Linked DNA regions of Homo sapiens. The protein of the gene in region 2 interacts with the protein of the main gene of each other region in a pairwise test. Each region holds a gene or a part of one and is shown on either strand. Other genes may lie near its edges. The genes, in order: SMARCA5 and BAZ1B.

Region 1 (3,923 bases), on a different chromosome or scaffold from region 2:
CAGAGAAGTACAAGGAATAACAGACTAGGATGTACTGATTATGATTAGAAGCATATATAACAAACAAGAAGGCCCTTGAATTTCTGAGGAATGCTTCTATCTTGGAAGGCCGCTTATCCTTTTAGCAAGCATGTGGTTTTGGTAGAAATGAAGTTACAAATTAGATTCAGCGGTCTCAACAGAGGCATAACGTGCCTTTTTCTAAATAAGATGAAAATATTTGTTGAAAGTGTCAGAATTGGGGAGTAAGTATTAATAGTTTTACTGAACCAAGCCCTTTAGAGATTAATTGGCAGTATTAAAACTTTAGAAAATCAGTTTTTAAGGGGGTAGTATATCTGATTCTCTTAGGATGTAGAATTTAGATGTGTATTTAAAAATTTTTTTGATGAATCCGTGGTCACTGCTTAAATTTCTGAGTCCTTATGCTGCAGCTTTTGCTCGAAGTTACAATTTTAAACATGTGGTTTCTGGAACTTTTTTTTCCTTGGCAAAAAGATTTTTAAAAAGGTACACTTTAAAATTCAAATAATGAGATTTTCTGACTACATAGTTCTTGAAATTTGACTATCATATTTGAGTTTATTGGGTTCTGGTTAATGTATCGTACTGGTGTATTTTAATAACTAATGTATATTTTAAATAATTATTTAAAACATTGCAGATTTAAATGTACTCATATTTTCTACTGTCCACTGGTTGATGCCTGTTAAAAATTTAATTTTGTGGAATCTTGGTCAGCCACTTGACTATGATGTTTAAACAGTAGCTGATAATTAAAGCCAAAACTCAAATCAGGTTATTTTATTTTCATCTTAACAGTTACCGACACCGTAGAACAGAGCAAGAGGAGGATGAAGAGCTATTAACAGAAAGCTCCAAAGCAACCAATGTTTGCACTCGATTTGAAGACTCTCCATCGTGTATGTTAAACACACTTGATTTTTTTAAAAAATTGCCCTTTGAGATCTCCTTTGGTTAATGTTTTGGATTTGTGTTGGCTACTATTTGTGAAGCAAATTTTTAGTAGTCTTAGATGTTTATTGGTTATGAAATAAACTTCAGATTTTGATGGAGATGAGAGCATATTACAGGATAGTAGTGCTGTATTTCAAAGTTATATAAAATGTCATTGTGTTTGTTATTGCCCTGAAGTATATGTAAATCTAAGGATCGTTTTGCTTTATATTTGTCCCACATAAGAAAACTAATTTATTTTAAAAAAGGTACTTCATGAACACATTTGCTTACTTCTGATGTTTTTATATTAATTTAATTTTTTGTGAAATGTATTTGTTTATTGGTTAGCTTTTTATCCTCAAGTGTTTTTCAAAAGGAGATGGAGGGCTACACTGTGTACATATTAAAAAAGAAAAATCAGGTGACCGTTATGTATATTTGGTAATTATTCTGGGGAGCAAAATAAGTAGTATACCCTGAAAGAGAGTGCATTGGAATGTATAAGATATATTGGACAAGTAACTTAGGAATTTCCTATTTCTTTTTTTTTTTTTTTTACTAGAAAGAAAATAAAATCCCCAGATAACCTGTATCTGGTCTTTATGAAAGCTGAAAATACTTGGTTAGGAACACTTGGTTTTTCATTAAAAAGACGAGAGGCCAAAGAGTCTCTCAGACCAGTATATGGGTAACGTAAGAACTGAGTTGTTGGAGTGGGTACTCTGATGCCCGCAGTCATGTTTCCCGCACTTGATTATCTTCCATGTCCAGCTTTTCCACTTCAGACCATGGCAGCTACCTCTAGTATTTTGGAACTTGCAGAGTTCCTATTCAAGAATCCGTTAGTAATGAAAATAAAGTCAGTAGATATGTGTAGGCTTAGATGAAGAGATTGCCTTGTATTTCTTGTCTTAAAATGCCTATTGTGCTTTTCTTTTGTTCTTAGATGTAAAATGGGGTAAACTGAGAGATTATCAGGTCCGAGGATTAAACTGGCTCATTTCTTTGTATGAGAATGGCATCAATGGTATCCTTGCAGATGAAATGGTATGTGTTGGTAGTTTTTTTTGAAGGGTATGTTTTGTATTGAAAATATCTTATACGTTGATAAAAGTTTCTTACAGTCTACAACTGTTAGCAAATGGATCCTCTCAGAAACTAGTATAAGCAGCTTGCCTTAGTTGCATAAGTGTGATCTGTATTTTAATTGTGAGAAATTTCCATCGCTGAAAATATGATAAATTTAAAAAGAATACATTTGAGAAACATGTTTTTGGATGACTTTTATAGTACAATGATTTATTTGCTTCCAGTTTTGTAAAACAAAAGTGAGGTCATTAATTGTTTATAATTGATAAATGTTTTTTCCAGGTGGTAGCTTGTACAATTCTTAGAAAACATTTATCTTTTGTTAACTACTAGTTATGTAATGAATGTTTAAAAAAGTTTCCTTATTGCTATAATGCTAAAACGTTTAATTGGTTGGAGAAAGTATGAAGTCAAAAGAAATGTGTTTCAATGCTAGCTCTGCTAGATGACTTTGGGAATGTCACTTAAACGGGGCCTTATGCGGGTGATAATAATACCTCCTTTAGAGACTTGTGAAAATTATATGACATAACACTTACAAACTTTGATATATGTTAAGTTTTTGCCATTTATTAACTGTTATAAATATGTAGCATTTCTTTTGAACATTTCTATATGTTGGGAGGTATAATTGTGAAATAATATTTTCATTTTTCACTGCTTCATGGTTATTTTGAAATCTTTCAGGGCCTAGGAAAGACTCTTCAAACAATTTCTCTTCTTGGGTACATGAAACATTATAGAAACATTCCTGGGCCTCATATGGTTTTGGTTCCTAAGTCTACATTACACAACTGGATGAGTGAATTCAAGAGATGGGTACCAACACTTAGATCTGTTTGTTTGATAGGAGATAAAGAACAAAGAGTAAGTTTCTAGTATTTCATTACATTTTTGAGGCTAAAATAATTTGAATTCAGGCTTGGGTATGGGTATAGCTGGAAGAAGGATAAATGAGACGGGATCTTCGCAAATATTAGTATTTACAAATGTAGCATTGTCTTGGTGGATAAAAAACAGCACTTTGGGAGGCCGAGGCGGGTGGATCATGAGGTCAGGAGATCGAGACCATCCTGGCTAACACAGTGAAACCCCGTTTCTACTAAAAACTCAAAAAATTAGCTGGGTGTGGTGGCACGCATGGCCTGTAGTCCCAGCTACTTGGTAGGCTGAGGCAGGAGAATCGCTGGAATCTGGGAGGTGGAGGTTGCAGTGAGCCGAGATGGCGCCACTGCACTCCAGCCTGGGCAACAAAGCAAGACCATCTTAAAAAAAAAAAATCATACTGGGAAGAAGACATTAGAAATGGTAGAAAGCTGTAAGACTGTAGTTTGTTTCTCTCCCTTTTGGGAGTGGTTGTATAAAATCATTGGTTGTGCTCTCATTAGAAGTTATTTTCTTGTTTTTAAAAGATATTTTGAAATGTGAGTTGGTTGGAAATTTAAGGAGCCACATTTTTAGATGAATGTGTGTAGTGGTAATAGTCACAGAATTAGAGTTTTTAAAGACGGGTTGAGTCATATATAGTAATTTGGTGATTTATTATGATATTTAACAAAATAAGTTAAAATTTCGATCAGTTGACAACATCCTTGTGGGAAGAAGAGATGGAAATAATGACATTAGTATATAAAGCTCAGATTTGGAAATTTATTCAGACTCTACTGAATAGCTGTGTACTTGTTTTTTATTTCCTCTTCATTTACCTGTGAGTGATAAGTCTATATTTTTCTCTCCCTTTCTAGTTATGTTGGATATTTTAAGTTATCAATTTTTGTTTGTTTGTTTGGGAGCCCAAAGAGTGGTAATTACTTAACCAGTCTTTGCTTCAGTTTCCTTACCTTTAAAATAATACTATTAGGAATGTGTTAATA
Region 2 (3,923 bases):
TTTTCTAATGAAAGAACTATTCAAGCCGGGGTTTGGTGGCTCAGGCCTGTAATCCCAGCACTTTAGGAGGCTGAAGCAGGAAGATTGCTTGAGTTTAGGGGTTCAATACCAGCCTCCACAAATAATAAAAAGATTAGCCAGGCGTGCTGACACATGCCTGTAAGTCCCAGCTGCTCGGGAGGCCGAAGTGGGAGGACCACTTGAGCCCAAGAGGTCAAGGCTGCAGTGAGCTGAGATCACACTGCTGCACTCCAGCTTGGGTGACAGAATGAGACCTTGTCTCAAAATAAAATAAAAAAGAAAATGTTGAAAAAGAACAAGCTGGAAGATCAACACTTCCCTATTCCGAAACTTACTACAAAGCAAAGTTATCAAGACAGTGTGGCTTTTACATAAAGACAGACATACAGATCAGTGAAATAGAATTCAGAGTCCAGAAATAAGCCAACGTATCCTACAGTCATATGATTTTTGACAAGCGTATCAAGGCCATTCAATGGGGAAAGGTTTGTCATTTCAAAAAACGGCACTAGGACAACTGGAGAGCCACATGCAAAAAAAAATAAAGCTGGACTTTTACCTTACACTATAAAAATTAGCTGAAAATAAAAGACCTAAATTTCAGAGGCAAAACTATTAAGACATTTGGAAGAAAACAGGAGTAAATCTTCATGACCCTGGATTTGGCAAAAGATCCTTAAATCTAACACCAAATCTATAAGTAACAAAAGAATAAATAGATAAAATGAACCTCATCAAATTTAAAAAACTTTTGTGCTTCAAATGATACTACTAAGAAAGTGAAAGGACAGGCCAGGTGCAGTGGCTCACAGCTGTAATCCCAGCACTCTGGGAGGCCAAGGCGTGCGGATCACCTGAGGTCAGGAGTTCGAGACCTTGCCTGGTCAACATGGTGAAAACCCACCTCTACTAAAAATATAAAATTAGCCAGGTGTGGTGGCACACGCCTGTAATCCCAGCTACTCGGGAGGCTGAGGCAAGAGAATCACTTGAACCCAGGAGGCAGAGGTTTCAGGGAGCTGAGATCACGCCACTGCACTAGCCTGGGCACAAAAAAGAGCGCAACTCCGTCTCCCCCAAAAAAAGTAAAAGGACAACACGCAAAATAGATGAAAATATTTGTAGACCAGGTATCAGACAGAGAATTGTATCTAGAATATATACAGAACTCTTACAACTCAATAATAATCAGATAACTCAATTTAATAATGGGCAAATGATCTGAATACTTCGCCAAAGATACACAGGTGGCCAGGAGACACATGAAAAGATGGTTCAACATCATTAGCCATCAAAGAAATGCAAATCAAAACCACAATGAGATACCATTTCACACCCACTAGTATGACTATCATCAAAAAGTCAGAAAATAACAAGTATTGATGAGGAAGGAGAAAAGTCAGAACCTTTAATTCACTGCTGGTGGGCATGTAAAATTGTGCAGCCACTTTGGAAAACAGTCTGGCAGTTTCTCAGATGGTTAAACATAATCATATGACCCAACAATCTTATTCCGAGGTATTTACTCTAAAGAAATTTAAGTATATGACTACTCAAAAACTCATACATGAATATTTATGGCAGCATTGTTCATAATAGGTAAAAGATGAAAACAATCTAAATGTTTATCAAGTGATGAATGAGAAACAAAACGTGGTATATCCAAACAATGGAATATTATCCAGCCATAAAAGGGAATGAAGTACTAACACATGCTACAACATGGATGAACCTGGAGAACATGCTAAGTGAAAAAAGCCAGCCATAAAAAGGCTACATATTATATGATTGCATTTACATGAAATATCCAGAATAGGTAAATCCATAGATGCAGAGAACAGATTGGTGGTTGCTGGGGGATGTGGACAAGGGAGAAGAGTGAGTGACTTTTGGGTTTTCTTTTAAAAATGTTTTGGGGCCAGGCATGGTGGCTGGCCCGGCATGGTGGCTGGCCGGGCACAGTGGCTCACGCCTGTAATCCCAGCACTTTGGGAGACTGAGGCGGGTGGATCAGGAGTTCGAAACCAGCCTGGCCAACACGGTGAAACCCCATCTCTACAAAAACACAAAAATTGGCCAGGCATGATGGCGCATGCCTGTAATCCCAGCTACTCGGGAGGCTGAGGCAGGAGAATCGCTTGAATCCAGAAGGCGGAGGTTGCAGTGAGCCAAGATCAAACCATTGCACTCTAGCCTGGGTGACAGAGCGAGACTCCATCTCAAAAAAAAAAAAAAAAAAATGTTTTAGAACTAAATAGAGGTGGTCTATTTTGTGACTGGCTTCTTTCACTTAGCATAATGTTTTCAAGATTCATTCATGTTGTAGCATGTAAAACATTATGCTAAGTGAAAGTCACAACAGACTATTTATTATACAATTCCATTTAGAGAAAATGCCTAGAATAGCAAATCTATAGAGACAAAGTAGACTAGTGGTTGCTCAGGGCTGGGGAGGATGGGCGAATGGGGTAATGACAGTTCATGGGTAGCAGGTTTCTTTGAGATGATAAAAATGTTACAAAATTGGCAATGGTTGTACATTATCTGTGACTCTACTGAAAACACTAAATTATACACAATAAGTGAACTAATTATACTGTATGTCGATTATTTCTTAATAAAGCTGCTTTTTAAAAGTTCAGATTCGATGGAGCCATCAAAGCCCAAAATTTTTAAGTTCTTAAATCTTAAAGGACAGATTACTATCTGAGTTGGTGACCGTGCTAGGGGCTTCAAATACCTTGTCAATCAATTTTACAACAATCTTATCAAGCATATGAGGAAAGTGAGGCACGGATAAGTAATCTGCCCAAAGGAACACTGTACAGCTAAGTCAGAGCTAGAACCTGAACCCAGGTCAGTCAACTCCCAAGTCCTATGTTGTTTCCACTATTTCTATTTGTAGATTTGGTCCTTTACTGAACCCAGAAAAGATGCCAACATCACATTAACTTATTAACTAATCAGAATGCCAGGCTGAACACTCCAGCTGAAATATGAAATTATCAACAGAACTAATAAAAAATAAAATACATACCAATAGGTGCTGGGTTATTACATACAGAAATAAGTAAACAAACAGAGACCCTACCATTACCTCAGTAATTTCCTTTCTTTTACTATCTTCTACAGAGCTTCCCCTTTTCTCTCAGCATGAAATTTTACCTTTCATTTCTCTTTCCTGGATTTCCCGTTCCTTCTTAGCTTGAATGGCAAGCAACCTTCTGCTCTTCACAGCACTAATCATGTCTTCAGCTTCTGTATCTACTTGGGGCTCAAACTTCACAATTTCTTTTTTCCTATCAGTTTTGCCTAACCCATTCTCAACTTTTCCATTTTCTTTATTTTTGGCTTCCATTTCTTTCCGTTTCTGTTTCTCTGCTCTCTTCTTATCATTTTCTTCCTTCAACACAGCAAGCCGTTCCTTCCACAACTCTGCAGACATCTGCTGTCTGGTCTCCATGTGGTCTTGCACTGAGTATGTCATGAGGATCCGGTGGCACAGTGCTGTCAAGATCTGTAGCTTCTCCTCTGACGTCAGCTCAAAAAATTCAGAGGTCTCCAGCTTTTCTAGGAACTCATCTTGTACCTCATTATCCTCAAATGCAGCTGAATCTTTATTGTCATCTGTGTCTGAGCCCTCGCTTTCCTCCTGAACATCAGATCTGCGCAAGCAGAGCCGCACCAGCTCTGAAACAGAATGCAGAGTCAAGGGGATTTCCGACAGCTTCATTCCCAATTCACCATAGTCTTCTGCTATCTCATCTTGTAGGAGGGTCTGTAAGAGGATGACCAACACCCTGTTAAGGTATAAAAAGCCACCCTTATCTGCACTCAAGGCTTCCATAAGGGACACAGCAGTAATAGGATACTGAGCATCTGGTAAAAGTAGCCCAGAATAA

What was found.
Region 1: the proteins of BAZ1B (region 2) and SMARCA5 interact in binary tests that used the Homo sapiens proteins (3 or more experiments, as listed by UniProt).

What each region holds. Positions count from the first base shown.
Region 1 is NC_000004.12:143,523,545-143,527,467, forward strand, and holds part of SMARCA5 (SWI/SNF-related matrix-associated actin-dependent regulator of chromatin subfamily A member 5), read left to right. Parts: intron 1-822; coding exon 823-923; intron 924-1,906; coding exon 1,907-2,007; intron 2,008-2,736; coding exon 2,737-2,916; intron 2,917-3,923. UniProt on the Homo sapiens protein: ATPase that possesses intrinsic ATP-dependent nucleosome-remodeling activity.
Region 2 is NC_000007.14:73,473,682-73,477,604, forward strand, and holds part of BAZ1B (tyrosine-protein kinase BAZ1B), read right to left. Parts: coding exon 3,187-3,923; intron 1-3,186. UniProt on the Homo sapiens protein: Atypical tyrosine-protein kinase that plays a central role in chromatin remodeling and acts as a transcription regulator. Involved in DNA damage response by phosphorylating 'Tyr-142' of histone H2AX (H2AXY142ph).